Linked DNA regions of Homo sapiens: region 2 is linked to region 1. Evidence: fine-mapped expression QTL. Tissue or cell type: whole blood. Region 1 holds a variant in brackets; the other region holds the start of a gene. All regions are shown on one strand. Distances are between the middles of the regions.

Region 1 (8,179 bases):
CCATTACGAGTGAGTTGCGGGAGTCAGAGGTTGCAGTGAGCCGAGATCACACCATTGCACTCCAGCCTGGTGACAGAGCAAGACTCCGTCCACCCACCCTCCCCTGCACAAAAAACAAAAAGTTGCAGGGCCAGGCATGGTGGCTGATGCCTGTAATCCCAGTACTTTGGGAGGTGGAAGCGGGTGGATCACTTGAGGCCAAGAATTTGAGACCAGCCTGGGTAACATGTTAAAACCTTCTTTCTACTAAGATGACAAAAAATCAGCCAGGCCTGGTATCGCGCGCCTGTGGTCCCAGCTATTCTGGAGGCTGAGGCATGAGAATTGCTTGCACCCAGGAGGCATAGTTTGCAGTGAGCCGAGATCACACCATTGTACTCCAGCCTGGGTGACATTGCCAGACTGTCTCAAAAAATAAAAATAAAAAAGTGAGTTGCAGGGCTGGGCGTGGTGGCTGATACCTATAATCCCAGCACTTTGGGAGGCAGAGGCAGGTGGATCACTTGAGTCCAGGAGTTCAGGACCAGCCTGGGCAACATGGAGAGACCCCTTCTCTACAAAAATAAAATATAAAAATTAGCTAGGCATGGTGGCGTGCTCCTGTAGTCTCAGCTACTCAGGAGGCCGAGGTGAGAGGATAGATTGAGCCCAGGAAATTCGAGGCTGCAGTGAACCATGATTGTCCCACTGCACACCAGCCTGGGAGACAGAGCGAGACCTTGTCTCAAAAAAAAAAAAAAAAAGCGTGAGTTGCAGATGTTCTGTCGCATCAGCCATGACACTTCAACATGCATCTCTGCATAAAAGGAGTCCAGATGTCATGGTCAGACCTCAGACAATGAAGAATTTCTGGCTAGCTTCGCGTGTCCTCTCTGTATTAAATATACTCACTTGTCCCCAGGGCATGTGCTGCGTGTGCATTTGTTGGTTTAGTCTCCTCACTTTTTCCCCTCCTCTTTCTTTTTTTCTTTTTTTCTCTTTTTTTTTTTTTTTCATTTTTTCTGGGTAAGCACATGTAGATTCAAGACTCTGACAGGTCAGTTTTCCTGTGGAGCAGTCTGTGTTTAGATTTGCATGTTGCTTACTGCAGGTGGTTTCATTGGTTTGCGGATGCTAATCTTTGTCTGGTGGACCCCAGGCAAGGCTGGCGTCTTGCTGTTTTGCTGCTTTGGTGATGAAGCATCGCCATAAATCCGAACTAAATCCCACCCATCCTGGCTGCAAACCCTGACCACAGCCTCATCTCTCCATGAAGTTCTCCTTCACCCAGCACAGTTGAAAGTGAACTTACTTTCTCAGCCTTGATATCTCTGCTGTACCATTTGGCAGCCAGTTCTGCACTGCCATAGTTTGCTGTTTAATGTATTCATATTTTGTCCCCATCTAGATCATAAATTCTCAGACCATAAAAACCTTTTGCTTTACTGAATGACGCCTTAAAGTATCCAGCCGACGGCTGAAGATACGTAGGTATTGAATGTTTGTTGCAATGAGTCAGAAAGCATGAAGCACTGCCCTGGACGTTCCTGTCCTTCCTGGGTCCTACTTGGAGCGTAAGATGAGCACGTGAGGCCCTGAGGATCTGCTCAGTAGGCTCTGTGTATGGAAGTAGCTTTTTACTTGTTCTAATGTGGTATATTTAGATTTTGTTTCAAAGAAAAACTTTTTTTTTTTTTGAGACAGAGTCTTGCTCTGTCGCCTAGGCTGGAGTGCAGTGGCACAATCTTGGCTCACAGCAACCTCCGCCTCCCGGGTTCAAGCAATTCTCCTGCCTCAGCCTCCCAGGAAAAACTTTTTTTAAAGGACTTAGGTGGTTGAATTAGAGTTTGCACCAGAAAACACAGGAATTAATTTTTTGCTGTCGTGTAACTTGAAATAAGATATGTGGGCCTGTGCTTCCATTTTAGGAATAAAGTGATAAATGTTCACGAGTCTTTAGGGATTCTCGTCTTCACAGGCTTGAGGATTGAATGCTGTTTGTTGTTTTGTTACTGTGTTTTATTATAAACAATTTAATGATAGTATAAATATAATTAATTCAAAATACACTTACATTCAATCAAACCCCAGTAATTTGGACTTTGTTACAATTCCACAAGGGCTTGGTTGTAATTTGATCTTTGAACTCTTGGTGAAAAACAATTTCTTCAGCAAATTGATAACATAAAGCAAAGTGAAGGGGGAATGTTTCCACCATTTAAGGGAGTGGTTTCTCTCCAGTGAAGCGCTTTTAAAGCACTGTTTATATTCTGACTTCATAGAAAGCAGCTCCCAGGGCCTGGATGTCCCCCTCCTGTCCTCTGGTTCATCCCCAGCACCGAGTGCCAGCTTAATGGTCAACCCTGAATGACCAGAGAGGACGCTGCAGGGACAGGGCAGGGTTTTCTGAGCACAATGGTCACTGGTGGGAGGAAAGGCCAGTGTGGCTTGGGCAAACAAAGCCGGGTGACATTTCAACAGAAAACCCTGCCCTGTCCCTTCAGCGTCCTCCCTGGTCATTCGGGGTTGACCACTAAGCTGGCACTCGGTGCTGGGGATGAACCAGAGGACAGGAGGGGGACATCCAGGCTGAGGACATGAGGCAGGTCCTGGGTGCAGCTTGTGTTTGCCAGTTGCAAAGTTTCCTTGATCTTACCAACACCAGTGTCCGCAGTAAGGACAGTACTGATGCAAATCAGTAACTGCATTAGTAAAAAAGAATGTGAAGACTCAAACTTTGTAAAGGCTAAAAGTTGCACCCACGCCTGGGGCCTGAGGACAGCTACATGCTGCTGTGTGGTTGGAGGGTGCTGGATGGTGGCTGCGGATCTGTGGTACTGAGAATGGCCATGGTCACAGCCCGGATGAGCATTGCCTCCTTCCTAGGGAGACACATGGCCTGGAACACACAGCGGCTGCAGCCGGGCAGCCTTGGAGCATAGGTTGGTAGTGCTTTCTTCTTGACAAAGCTCCCACTCTGAGTGCCTCCTCCCCAGCTCTGCTTTCTTAGGCTTTGTGGTGGAAGGGGCAAGGGCAGCCCAGGCTTGCAGGAGGCTCTGGAGAAGGTTCTGACCTCAGACTGCAAAGCGGACCTTGGCACTCAGCCTCACAGACACTTCAATATGCAGATGATTTTTTTGTGTGTTTTTTTTGGTAGAGATGGGGTCTCACTATGTTGCCCAGGCTGGTCTCGAACTCTTCAGCTCAAACAATCCTCCTGCCTCGGACTCCCAAAGTGCTGGGATTGGAGGCGTGAGCCACTGCACCCAGCCAGATGATGTTTTCAATCTGAGTAAAAAGGTAGTTTTAGAAGATGACTGGGCAAAGAAAGAGTGTCTTTGCTAGCTGGTGTGTAACATAAAGTAAAGAAAGAGTGTCTTTGTTAGCTGTTGTGTAACACAAGGCACAAGATCTAAATGAAGGTCAGTGATAACACTTTTCTTTTTTCTGATTAAATAATTGTCTCAGTAGTTTACAGAGAACTTACATTTGTGTTTTCACTTTCACGTCTGTGTACTCATGATATGTCCAAATCATGCATTTATCTTATAGTATTGTTTTTAATTCTGGTTAACAAATATATTAAGCCAGGCATGGTGTCACTCCTATAGCCCCACCTACTGG[G/T]AAGGTTGAGGTGGGAAGACTGCCTGAGCCAAGGAGTTCAAGGCTATCGTGAGCTGTGATTGTACCACTGCACTCCAGCCTGAGCAACAGCAAGACCCTGTCTATAAAAATATAAATACTATATATGTATATGGGGCCAAATGCTATGTTCTGTATTTAAATTCTAATTACTTGTTAGATGTTAAGGTTGTCAATATGCTGATATTCAGACTGAGAAGTGATGAATTCATAATTGTCTTTATAAACAGGCAATGTCTACTTCGATCTGAAGTCTAGAGGAGACAAGTATGGCAAATTGGTCGGCGTGGTCCCTGGTCCAGTCGGAGAGCCAGGTGGGTTGGCCGGGCTCAGCCCTGTGGGTCCCTGACCTCTGCCTCGGGTCTCAGCTCTGGGGAGATGAGATCTGGAGCGCAGACCCCTCCACTTGCTCAGACACTGGCCTTACCCAGGTCACAGCTGTGTTTTAAATTTAGTGTGGTTTCTGTGGATGGCTCCAGCTTGTGAGGCATATAGTTCAAACGGCAAGTGGGGCATCGTCCACCCCCGCCCCCAGCGTGCCTGGCTCCATTCCCTGGAGACAGTGCTGGTCACTGTCTCCTTTTTCCTCCCCAGGGTTTTCAGCGCACATGAAAACCTCATACACGTACATCATATTTTCGCGTTCTTCTGTGTTACCGTACATTTAATTCCCATACGTGTCTTACTATGTGTTAAACTTCCAATCTGTTTGAATCTCTTCCTTGCTCTATTCTGTTCCAGGGAGTTATTAGGTCAAAACATTTTTATGGAGAAGAAATAGTAAGCGCAGTATATGGAACTAAATTTAAAATAATTTGAAAAGGATACTGTCTAAGGGAATCAAACAAGAATAACAGGGACAGACCCCAAAGACTGTTCAAGGTATTTCTGGTTTTAGGCACTGTCTTTCTGCGCCATAAACTGTGCCAATGAATCCTAACCATCCATAGCACTGACCCCTCAGGTTCTTTCCTTCCCCCGCCGTGGTGCCCTGTCCCGCTCCCCGCACAGGCCGGAACACAGACGCCCACATCAGCCACGTGTGAGGCGTGGCTACCAGCAGGCCGTGTGGGCTTTGCTTACACATGTGGAGGAGAAGTTTCTGAGAGTTGTACATTCTGGCATCAGGAAGGTTTTTTAAAATTATTTATTTAATAGATTTGCTTTTTAGAGCCATTTTAGCTTCATAGCAAATTTGAGAGTAAGGTACAGAGAATTCCTGTCTACCTGCTACCCTCCACACCGCCCCCCACACTGTCAGCATCCCCCACCATTGACGCATCAGCTTTGCCCAGAGACCAGAGTTGGCATCAGGGTTCACTCTCGGCACTGTGTGCTCTGGGTTTGGGTGAATGTATAGCGACATGTTTCCACCATTCCAGCATCACGCAGGATACTTGCACTGCCCTGAAAAATCCTGTGTGGTCTGTCTGCTCATCCTTCCCTCTTTCCCATCCCTGGAAATCACTGGTCTTTCTACAGTCTCTAGTTTTGCCTTTTCTAGAATGTCATATAGTTGGAGTCATACACTGTGCACCCTTCTCAGAATGGCTTCTCTCACTTAGGAATACACAGTAATTTTCCTCCGTGTCTTTTCATGGCTGAGAGCTCGTTTCTCTTTAACACTGAGTCACGTCCCAGTGTCTGAATTTACAGCAGCTTAAGCACTCACCTACTGAAGGGCATCTTCGCTGCTTCTGAGTTTTGGCAATTATGAATAAAGCTGCTGTAAACATCCACGTGCAGGTTTTCAGCTCATTTGGGCAGATACCAAGGAGCACAATGCTGGGTCCTCTGGGAAGAGGCTTATTTGTGTCAGAAACTGCCCAGCTTCTGCCAGAGTGGCTGCACCATTTTGCATCCCCACCAGTGAGGAATAAGTCCCTGTCGTTCCACATCTTCACAGCAGTGCTTTTTAAAATAAAAAATATTTTCTTATACAAAAGCAACATATTTATATAATTTATAATGGTACAAAATTAGGAAATAGAATTACACAAAACAAAGATAATAAAACCACCATTTTTACATATGGTGAAAAAAAATTTTAATGCCTTAGTGTATGTTATTTCCAAAGCAATGGTGTTGTCTTTTTAATTTTCAATTTAAATTGTTGTAATAACACAACAATAGAAAACACCATTAAAAAATGTCCAACTTGGTTGAGCATGGTGGCTCACACCTGTAATTCCAGCACTTTAGGAGGCCAAGGTTGGAGGATCACTTGAGGCCAGGAGTTCAAGACCAGCCTGGGCAATGTAGTGAGACCCCTTGCTGTCTCTACCAAACAAACAAAAATGCCCAGCTCAGTGAATTTGTGTTCAGTGGAGACCCTGCGGTCACCCCCTAGTGGAAGGAGACAACAATGGCAAGGGAGCGAAGGCACCTGAGTCCTCCGGGTCCCACGCCCTGGCCGATAACCTCCCGGGCCCTGCCTGCCAGCCTCTCTGCCCTGCCCTGGGGGCAACTACTGCCCTAACTCTGACAGCGGCCACCTCCTCATTTTTCTGAATGGGTTTATTGCCCAAACACGTGTCCCTTAACACGACACTTAGCCTTAGCTGTTCTATATTTGTGTCTTGTTTTTAGTCCACATGTTCCTCCCCTGGCTTCTTCCCCTTGCTGCTCATTTGAGGGAGAAACGTCATGTGTCTCACGGTTCCCCCAGTGGGATTTCGCTTGCTCTGAGTTTTGGAGTGTCTGTAACATTTCCCTCTGTCCTGTGTGTTTTTTTGCAAACTGGTAGTTGAATGTAGAGGCTTAATCCAGTTCTAAATTTCTGGAGAAGGCTACTTTGTAGATGGTGTATTCCTCACCAGGAGACACGTAAGGGCTCTGCCTCTGTGTGTCAGCAGCCCTGGCCGCTCTAGGCTTAGATCCTTCACTGCAAAAAGAGGTGGCATGGTGGTGCAACTCCCATTCTGCTTTATTTGCTGGAATACCTTTTTTGTTTGTTTGTTTGTTTGTTTTTTGAGACGGAATCTCACTCTTTTGCCCAGGCTGGAGTGCAGTGGCATGATCTCGGTTCACTGCAACCTCCACCTCCCAGGTTCAAGCAGTTCTCCCTGCCTCAGCCTCCAGAGTAGCTGGGATTACAGGGGCATGCCACCACACCCAGCTAATTTTTGTAGTTTTAGTAGAGATGGGGTTTTGCCGTGTTGGCCAGGCTGGTCTTGAACTCCTGACCTCAGGTGATCCACCCCCCCCCCCCCCCCCCTCGGCCTCCCAAAGTACTGGGGTTATCGGTGTGAGCCACCGTGCCTGGCCCATTTGCTGGAATACTTTTATACAGGCAGACTGTCATCTGGTTACTCAGTGGTACAGTTTGTATAAGAAAGGCAGGACCTTTTCCTTAACTTACCAGTTTTCAGAACAAGGAGTTGGCTTCCATATTTTCCTCTGGCAGTGACCAGTTCATGTTCTTCCGTTGCTGAGAGCTCGTGGGCTTCAGTGCACATGCCGTTTTAACCCATTGCTGCCATCACCTTATTGAGCCTCGGCGTGCCCCCTCTTTTGCTGGTAGCAGCTACTCCCGAGTCCCTTACACTCAGCCCTGTTGTAGTTAATAGTTTTGTGGCTGTCTATCTGATATGGTAAGATATTCCTGGCTCATCTTAAAATAAGCTGTTTCTCCTGGAAGTCCCATTTTTCTCTTTTCTTTCTTCCCTTTTCTTCCCTTTCCCTCCCTCCCTCCCTCCCTCCCTCCCTCCCTCCGGTCACGCCCGGTGTCCCTCCCTCCCTCTCTCTCTCTCTCTCTCTCTCTCTCTTTCTTTCTTTCTTTCTTTCTTTCTCTCTCTTTCTTTCTTTCTTTCTTTTCTTTTCTTTTGTTTTTTTGAGATAGAATGTCACTCTTGTTGTTCAGGCTGGAGTGCAATGGCGCGATCTCGGCTCACTGTAACCTCCGCCTCCCGAGCTCAAGCGATTCTCCTGCCTCAGCCTCCACAGTAGCTGGGATTACAGGCACCTGCCACCACACCCGGCTGATTTTTGTATTTTTAGTAGAGACGAGGTTTCGTCATATTGGTCAGGCTGGTCTCGAACTCCTGACCTCAGGTGATCCGCCCGCCTCGGCCTCCCAAAGTGCTGGGATTCTAGGTGTGAGCCACCGCGCCCAGCTCCCATTTTACTTTTAATGGGAAATGGTGTTTTGAGAACACAGCATGGGCACCATGGATACTCATTGTTGCCATCTGTCATTGCCGTCTGTCATTGTTTCCTGGCCTCTCCCATAGACTGAGGTAATGAACGCATCTGCTCCGTAGGTCACACTGATACTCAAATTCAGGGCCACGGGGTTTCATTAACCCCTCTGTCTGTTCACATGTGTGGTAAGGACAACGGGCGTGACCGGATGACCAGTGGGCATCCACCTGCTTTAGTCCATCACGGACCAGCCCTGCCCGAGGCTTGACCACGGTTAGAAGGTTCCCATGCACGTGCCTCCTCCCCGCCCCGCGTGTCCATATGTTGGAGTGCCCAGCCTCCGCCTGCGCTGCCTTCTGTAGCCCCGTCCACTCTTCCCCCCTCCCACCGTCTCCAGGTCCGCTTTTTCCCTGTT
Region 2 (8,179 bases), 31 kb before region 1:
GCTCACTGCAGCCTCGACCTCCCAGGTTCAAGGGACCCTCCCACCTCAGCCTCCTGAGTAGCTGGGACTACAGAAGCACCACTGTGATGGGCTATTATTATTATTTTTTAACTGCAGTGAATGCACTAGCCTTGCTTTAAAGCGAAGCTGGTAGGTTTTACTTTTGCATCTACTGCTTAAACAAAAACATCTTCACATCTGTTAAAGTCAATGGACTTTAAAATGTTATCAAAAACAAAAGAAAACCTCTTCAGTATTTAAATGTAAACCTTCCTGGGCATGTTAGAGGACAGTGTATATGATTTTAAAGTGTAATTTGGCAAGTGTAATTAGGCAATTTCTCAAGAAACAAAAGCTATTAAAAAATCTAGTTGAAGTAAACAGCCTTGCTAAAAAGGCTACTTAAATACACAGAAATTCCAGAGTTCTTTTTCCTCAAACAGTAACCATTAAATTAAACAGTACCAGATTATTCTCCTAAAACCTTTTTGCAGTCTCTTTAAACAAGGCAACAATACTACCTTTTTTTGTTGTTGTTGAAACGGAGTTTCACTCTTGTTGCCCAGGCTGGAGTGCAATGGCGCGATCTCAGCTCACTGCAACCTGCCTCCCAGGTTCAAGCGATTCTCCTGCCTCAGCCTCCCGAGTAGCTGGGATTACAGGCATGTAATACCACGCCCGGCTAATTCTGTATTTTCAGTAGAGACAGGGTGTCTCCATGTTGGACAGGCTGGTCTCCCAACTCTCGACCTCAGGTGATCCGCCCGCCTCGGTCTCCCATGGTGCTGGGATTACAGGAGTGAGCCACCGTGCCTGGCCAACAATACTACTTGTAAACTAGGGGAGGGGCTGAGAGTGGGAGGGATTGTCTAAAATGTTACCCCCTTCCTTTCCAGATCTTATCTCCAAATAGTTATAAGACATATACCTAACACTAGAGTAAACATAAGAACTCAGGCCAACGCTGAAGCTTCTCTAAATGGTAATATTTTCCAGAGTATATTCTCAAACTAAAGACAGCTTTGAAGACTCCTAGAGGAACAATGCAGGCTGCCTGCCACCAGGAGGAAAGCCCTAGTCTCATATAGTAATTAATTATAAAAATAAATAGCTGTGTTCAACGTATCCAAGTAATACCAATTTATTCAACTTATTTATCATAATGTTAAAATATGTGTACCATTTATTTTTAAATGGATTTAGGGTTACAAAATGGTATCACTTCTTTTCATCAGTAATCAAAGTTCTAAAGACAATATTGTCATTTCACAGAAAACTGTATCATATAAATTTAAAATTTAATAACACAGAAGTTATTTTACATCACAAGCAAGCTTCCATCCAGGTGAAGCCTAATTTGTGGGCAAGAGAAACAGATATCCCATCGCAAAATTACCAAGAAGTATTTCTGTTACCTAATATTTCTTTGATACTCCAAGCAAAGTATTTTATCAACAAAGCCACTAAGTACAAATATTTATAAACAGGAACAACACCACTGCTAAATAGGAAGCCATCCTTCCAGACACTCTGCTTTTTCAATGCCAGCAACTCAGCTTCAGACACTACTGCCTTTTTTCCAAACATATTCCACACCAACATTACCATGGAAAGCAGCAGCACATGCAATTTACAGATTAAATGGGGTTGTAGCAACATTTAAATTGGTTTGTCCAATTATTTTAAATGTATTTTAATTTTACATACGGGTTGCACTGAAGTTCTTTATGAAGCGAACTTCCCAGGGGGTGGGTGGGTATTTTTATGATAATGTTTGAAAAATAATTCAAGCAACCTCAAACACCATTTTAAATCGACAAACTAATTATAATCCAAGTTTATGAATTAACATACAACTGATGCCTACTAAGCAAAAGACGTTTGACTTCCTACAGAGTAGGTCTGTGGAAGTCTTTCAGAACTACGCGGCAGAGCTCAGCATTTACACCGAAGTCCAAGGAGCTGTGACCCTTGCGACAGATTCGCTCGCTTCTCGGCGCTCCCAGCTGCGCCGCTCCAGTACTCCCGGGGGGGCAGGACTGTGATCTTTCCTGAAGCCAAAAAGTTCATCACCCTAGGTGAACATGAAGCAAGCAGCAAGCCAGGCTCTCCCCAGCAACGACAGGAGGACAAAGTGGCTCCATGAACTTTGCTGTCTGGACAGCTGGAACCCTGCACCCCGCCCCGCGCTACTTTTTTCTATCGTCGAACGATCAAAGTGGTCTCAGCCCCTGCCTTCCTTCCGTCCGGAGCCCCAGGGTCACCCCACGGGGCCCGTCCGGCCCGAGGACAGCACCTTCCAGAAAAGTTTCTGCGCCGAGGGTCCCCCTCGTGGACGCAGCCCCAGTCACTCACGTTTCCACGGCCACGCGCGGCCCCACCCTCGGGTCAGCAGAGATGCGGCCTGAAACTGTCTCCGAGCCGGCCCCGCGGGTCGCGGGAGGCGGTCCGAACTGCAGCCCCGGCCCCGAGCCCACAGGCCCGGGATCACTGCTACTGCTATAAATCCGCGCCCGAAAGTGGCCGGGCTGAGCGGGGAGAGGGGCCGGGGCGACACCCGCCAGGCCTCCAGCCAATGGGGAGGAGGCCAGCGGGAGACTCGCCCCGCACCCCGAGAGCCGCCGCCTATGGGAATCGCCGATTTGGAGGGCGGAGGCCAGGAGGAGAACCAACCACACCGCAGGGCGGAAGAGCACGGCCCGCCCCAGCAGCGAGAAGAACCAATCCAAGGCTGGAGGCCGAGCGACCCGAAGACGTTCAAATCAACTCGTCCACCCTCCACCCCGCTCCTCCCCGAAAAAGAAAAAAGAAGACAGCGGAAACACAGACCCATACCAGTTATTGCGCTAGGCCCGCCTTCATCCGCCTCAGCGACCAATCGTTCCGCAGGGGAATGATAAGGACATTCCACGAAGGACATCACAGCCAACTACTGGGGGGCTGAGGCGGGACGTTCCATAATATGCTAATGAAGTTCCTATAAAATTCGCTGCGAAGCTACGTCTCGGATAGAACGCGCAGGGGCGCCTTCCCGGCAGAGGCGTCTAGTACTTTCGGGGATAGCGGTCAATTTTTTTTTTTGCCCCCACCCAACTCTTCCGTTTCCCTACTGCGCAGCCTTGTAAACATTAGTAAACTCCGAGTGGTGATCCACATTCAAAACAGAGCCCCCAAAGCCTTGACTGACCTCGCAGGAAAGTTTCCCCAACAGCCAACAATTCCCGGCGGACACGAACTCGCCACCTCTCTCTGACACCCGGGGCGGCCAGGTCTGCAGAGAACGACGCACAGGTCCTCTCACCTGCCACAGTCCTCTCCAAGCCAGCGATCTGCCCGCGCCCCCCCGAGCGCAGCGCAGATGGGCGCCTTCCCCGCCTCCGCTCCTCCCCTTCCCTTCCCTTCCCTACGGCACACAGAGAAAAGCCCTCGTCCTCCGCAAACTACAACCGGCGGCGTCGCCCCTCGCAGTCGGCCCCTACTCGGTGTCCAGCTCCAAGTGAGGGCCGGAGGGGGCTGGGCGGGGGCGGCCGACCTACCCCGAGCGGAGTACTACCCGGTACTTTATGTAACACTCAGATTCGGGACTGAGTGGGGGGCGACGAAGAAGGGCCAGAGGAACGGCGTTGCCCGGGACCGAGGCACCGGGTCCGCGGGAACCCCGGCCCACAGCCGCCCTCCTCCTGCAGCCCCGTCTCGGCGCCCTATAGCCCCAGGCGCCGGCACATCCCTCCATCTCGCGCCGTAATCTGCACCCCCTCCTAGAGGACGCGGCTTGGACCCGCCGCCCCCTCCCCCGCAGCACCCGCCTCATCACTTCACTACAAAGAGCGCTTTGGTCGCGCAGCCTTGCAGCGAGACCTCTCGCGCCTCCTTCCTCCTCCGTGTCCCGGGCTTTGCACACAAGGACCTTGGCGAATCAAAGGCGCTCCAGACCTTTTGTTCCTGCCCCTGCCGAGGGCCGCCGCTGCGGAGCCGGCCGCTTCCTCCGGTCCACGGCAGGACCGGCCCGGCTCCGCGGCGCGCCCGGACCCGCCGGGAAGGAGGCGGCCGCCCCCGCCCATCCATCACCCGGCCGTACCTTGGTATTTCGCGTCGATCTCCCGCATCAGCGAGACATTTCTCTGCAAGTCGAAAGGCAGGGACTCGATGGAGTCCAGGTAGTCCTCCACATAGTTCACCAGGTGGAGCTGCTCCCCGTTGGCAGGACTCAACATGGTTCACCCCGGAGGTCCCCGGCGACTCGGCGCGGCTTTCCGCTTCCTCCACCCCCCGCCCCCCTCAAAAAATAGCACTGCAAAATGCAAAGCCCTCGCTCTCCCGGCGCCCCCCCGCCGGCTCCTGCTTCGGCCCGGCGGCTACATCTGCCGAGCCCGTCCGCCGCCTCCGGGTCCGCGGGGACCCCAGCGCCTGAGGGCGCGGGCCGCGGTGGCGGTGGCTCCCGGGCGCACGCCCCGGCCGGCGGCGCAGGCCCCCTCTCAGGCGGCGGGGCTGGCGCCGGGGGCCGCGCGTACGAGCGCGCACACACCGGCGGGAGAGGGCCCAGCGCCGCGGCCGCCGCTGCCCACTCGCCCACTGGGCTGGGTAGAAGAGAGGAGCGGAGCGGGCAGCGGGAAGGGGCGCGCTCCGCTGGCCGCCGAGCCGCACTTGTCCAACGTGGAAAACCCAAATACCAGTTTCAAACACTTGGGAAACATTCAGCCCCGCTGCGCAGCGCGCATGCGCCCCGGCCCCCTCCCCCGGCAACGGCCCCGCCCCCCGCCGCATTCACGCCCCTCACCGTCCCAGGCCCTGGGGGCTGCGGGCTCCAGGCCGGCCCTCGCGGGGGCGTGGCCTTGCCTGTCACTTTTTCCAGAGGCGAGGGTCGCGGAGGGGACAGCGTCAGGGCCGCTGGGGTGTGGACGGCGGGCGAGGCGCAAACTTTACTAGGAGTTTTTGGCACTTGGAGGCAGAGCCTGTTGGGCGGCACAGCACGCCCGCTGGGAAACGCAGGGGAGCGGCCTGCTTCGCTGAAAACCCGACCAGGACCTAACGGGCCGCGGGACAGAAACCTCCGAGACCATGGTACACAGCAACTACCGCAACTCGCTCCTCAGCCCCTGACTCTTCGTCCCCGCCCCACAGAGCAGTATAAGTAGGGCCCGAAACAGAACTGGCAACCGCAGTAGCCAATCTACTTGCCAACATCACTTTGACAGCCCAATCACGATGAAGAGGAGGCGGGGAGACCGTGAGTAATGCCCCCCGGACTCTTACTACTAGAAACCCAAGTCCTCCGGGAGGCGGAAGGAAGGGGAGGGCCGGGCACGGGCGGAAGTGGCGGCGCATGCGCACTGGCACCCTCTCGGTGTCCTTTGAGCTGCGGCCGCAGAGTGCGCGGGAGACCTACCCATTCCGCGGCCGGACCACCACTCCCAGCAGCCTAGGCGGCTCCCGCGCCTGCGCCATCCGTCACCGCCCTCCCTTTGTGTCGTCTCCCGGTACTCAGTTTGGAACGGCTTGGAGACAAAGGGGCCTGAGAGGGAAGCTGCTTCCTAGTGCCGAGCCCCAGAAGAGGTGGATAGGCCCGAGGGGCGCCTTCCCTAGGCCTTATCTCTTCCCGCCCTGTGTCATGGACACCGTTCTCGGAGGCCGCTCCCCACACTTGGAAAGGCCGCCCACAGTATGCAGACACCCGGTCGGCCGGCGTCCTGAGGCCATTCAGCTCCCCGGACCGCCCTCCCCCGCGTCGCCCCTCTACCCTCCCAAAGCTCCCGGATTTTGGGCTTTCTGAGAAGCCTGGACGCCACGCGAGCCCGTTGCCTAGGCGACCGGCCCCGCGCGCCGGCCCCCCCCCTTCCGGCCAAAGGGCCCGCCCCTCCTGGGCGTGGCCTCGTGCCTTTGTGCACTTCCCGCCTGGCTCTCTGGTTCCGGGGCGGCCTCGGCTTCGGCCTCCGCCCCGCTGCGGCCGCCGCGGGTCCCCTCCGGGGTGGCCCCGAGAGCTGTGTTCGCCACGCTTGGCTGCCTGCTTTTCTCTGATTTTCTTCCGCCTTGGACCCTGCTCTATTTGCATTGTCTTTTTTTCAGCAAGTCGGAGAACGGTGCCTTGTCAGTTTTCACCTTTCTCACTGGACTTTCTCTTTTCCGGAGAGCCGGGTTGGTGGTGCTGCCTGTGTATTCCACGAACTAAGCCCTGTCCCCAGCCCTTGCAGTGTTTCTGTATCAACTCCACGCCAGCGCGGTTCTCCATTTTTCTTAGCCTCTTAATTAGGACAGGGTCGGATTTCAGCTTTTATCCACCGGGTTTATCCTGTTGCAAAGCAGAGTACACAGTTTTAGACACAAAATAATTGCAGTTGAAATGGATACACATTCTGGTGGTAAGATTTGGAAACGTGGTATTTGATGGAACCCTGTTGTAACATCTAAAACTCTTTGGATTTTTTAAAAACGTATTCTGTGTAATCCAGTAAAAATTTGGATTCGTCCAGTATTTATAGAGTAGATTATTAACCGCAGTGGTGCTCATTCCAGGGCCCTGCCGGGTATTTTGTGCTATGGATGTGAGTACGGCAAAGAGACTGAATTAAGCTGTTTTGTATTTGGAATCGGATTGTTCACGTTGCAACGTTGCTGCAATGATAAATGGATGGATACTCTTTACACTTTGAAGTGGATTTAATCTTCACTTTTAAGCCCCTTCATCTCACCTACACAGCAGGAGAGCTTTGGCTTTGATATTTGGGGAAATGGCTGTTATTTTACTTACAGATCACGCTATTCTAGTCTTGGCCTAGTTAAAAGCAAATGAGTACTTTAGTTTCTACAAGATTTATTGGCCACTACTTGGTCTGCACAAAAGACTATAACACTTGGCCGGACGCGGTGGCTCACGCCTGTAATCCTACCACTTTGGGAGGCCGAGGCGGGCGAATTGCCTGAGATCAGGAGTTCGGGACCAGCTTGGGCAACATGGTGAAACCCTGTCTCTACTAAAAATACAAAAAATTAGCAGGGCATGGTGGCGCGTGCCTGTAGTCCCAGCTATTGGGGAGGCTGAGACAGAATCACTTGAACCTAGGAGGGGAGGTTGCAGTGAGCCGAGATTGTGCCACTGCACTCCAGCCTGGGCGACAGAGCAAGACTATCTCCGGAAAAAAAGAGAAAAAAAGACTACGACAAGATAACATTATGTGGAAACAAACATTATGTCGAATACAGAGTATAGAGGGAGTACAAAGTTGAATAAGGAAAATTACGCCTTTCCCTCAAAAAGCATATAAGTAATTTAAAAGTACAATAGTAAGAAATAGACCGGTTCTTCTATTCCTAGCATTCATTGGCTCTAGAATGAATAGTGTTTATCTGAACTCAAGAATAAAATTGGAAGTAATTTACCCTTTACAAAGATAAGATGGAGTTTAACCTAGGTTTTCTTTTTAAAAAAAAAAATCACAACACAGTACAATCTGAGTAATGATTTTGTTCCTCTAGTTATGTACTCTCTTCACATACACATAAACCAAAAAGGCATCTTAAGCATTCAACAAGGAATATTGACGAGTGTCTACCATGTGCCAACTACTGGTCCGTGCGCTGGGGATACAGTAGTGAAAAGTTTTTTGGAGCTTTACATTCCATAAAACTTTTAGCCCACCCCTTGGGATAAAAAGTCAAAAAAGATTTTATCTTTTTTGGAACAAACTTAGAAGATCAAGCAATAAAACATAATTACCTTTGATAACGAATTTTAAATGTCATTGAAGAAAGGTGCTTAATTTTGAAGATACGTTGAAGAATCTTGTCTCTTTCAGTTTTGTTTCCTGTGGCGTGTTGCAAAAATGGATGTTAAAACTTTTCCGTAGAACAGAAATTTCAAATGGATTAAAAAGAAACATTTAAAATTAAACTTTTTTCTAAAATTATATTTCCAGTCTAACTGAAAATGCTCAAACCTATGAGAGTCAGATATAAGAGATGAACATATAATTCTTTTTCTTTTTTTGAGACGGAGTCTTGCTCTTGTCACCCAGACTGGAGTGCAGTGGCGTGATCTCAGCTCACTGCAACCTCCGCCTCCCGGGTTCAAGCGATTCTCCTGCCTCAGCCTCCTGAGTAGCTGGGATTACGGGTGCCGGACGCCATGCCCAACTAATTTTTGTATTTTTAGTAGAGACGGAGTTTTGTCATGTTGGCCCAGGCT

The links. PIP is the estimated chance that this variant, and not a neighbour inherited with it, causes the effect.
Region 2: it holds the start of ING1, and the variant in region 1 is fine-mapped to the expression of ING1 in whole blood (INTERVAL, PIP 0.96).

What each region holds. Positions count from the first base shown.
Region 1 is chr13:110,678,807-110,686,985 of GRCh38, reverse strand. CARS2 (cysteinyl-tRNA synthetase 2, mitochondrial) reads left to right here. Exons shown (of 15, transcript NM_024537.4): 6 at 3,852-3,935. Among named protein-coding and RNA genes, the nearest start is that of CARS2, 23 kb to the left of the region's middle. The variant G/T (reference allele first, on the strand shown) is at 3,604.
Region 2 is chr13:110,710,185-110,718,363 of GRCh38, reverse strand. It overlaps ING1 (inhibitor of growth family member 1), which reads right to left and starts at 4,664. Exons shown (of 2, transcript NM_198219.3): 1 at 4,079-4,664. The coding sequence starts at 4,214. It also overlaps a transcript of CARS2 not described here. RefSeq lists enhancers at 1,858-1,947, 1,817-2,510, 2,688-2,857, 5,498-5,547, 6,148-6,237 and silencers at 2,238-2,287, 2,318-2,597, 3,368-3,437, 3,478-3,737, 3,828-4,117 and 4 more.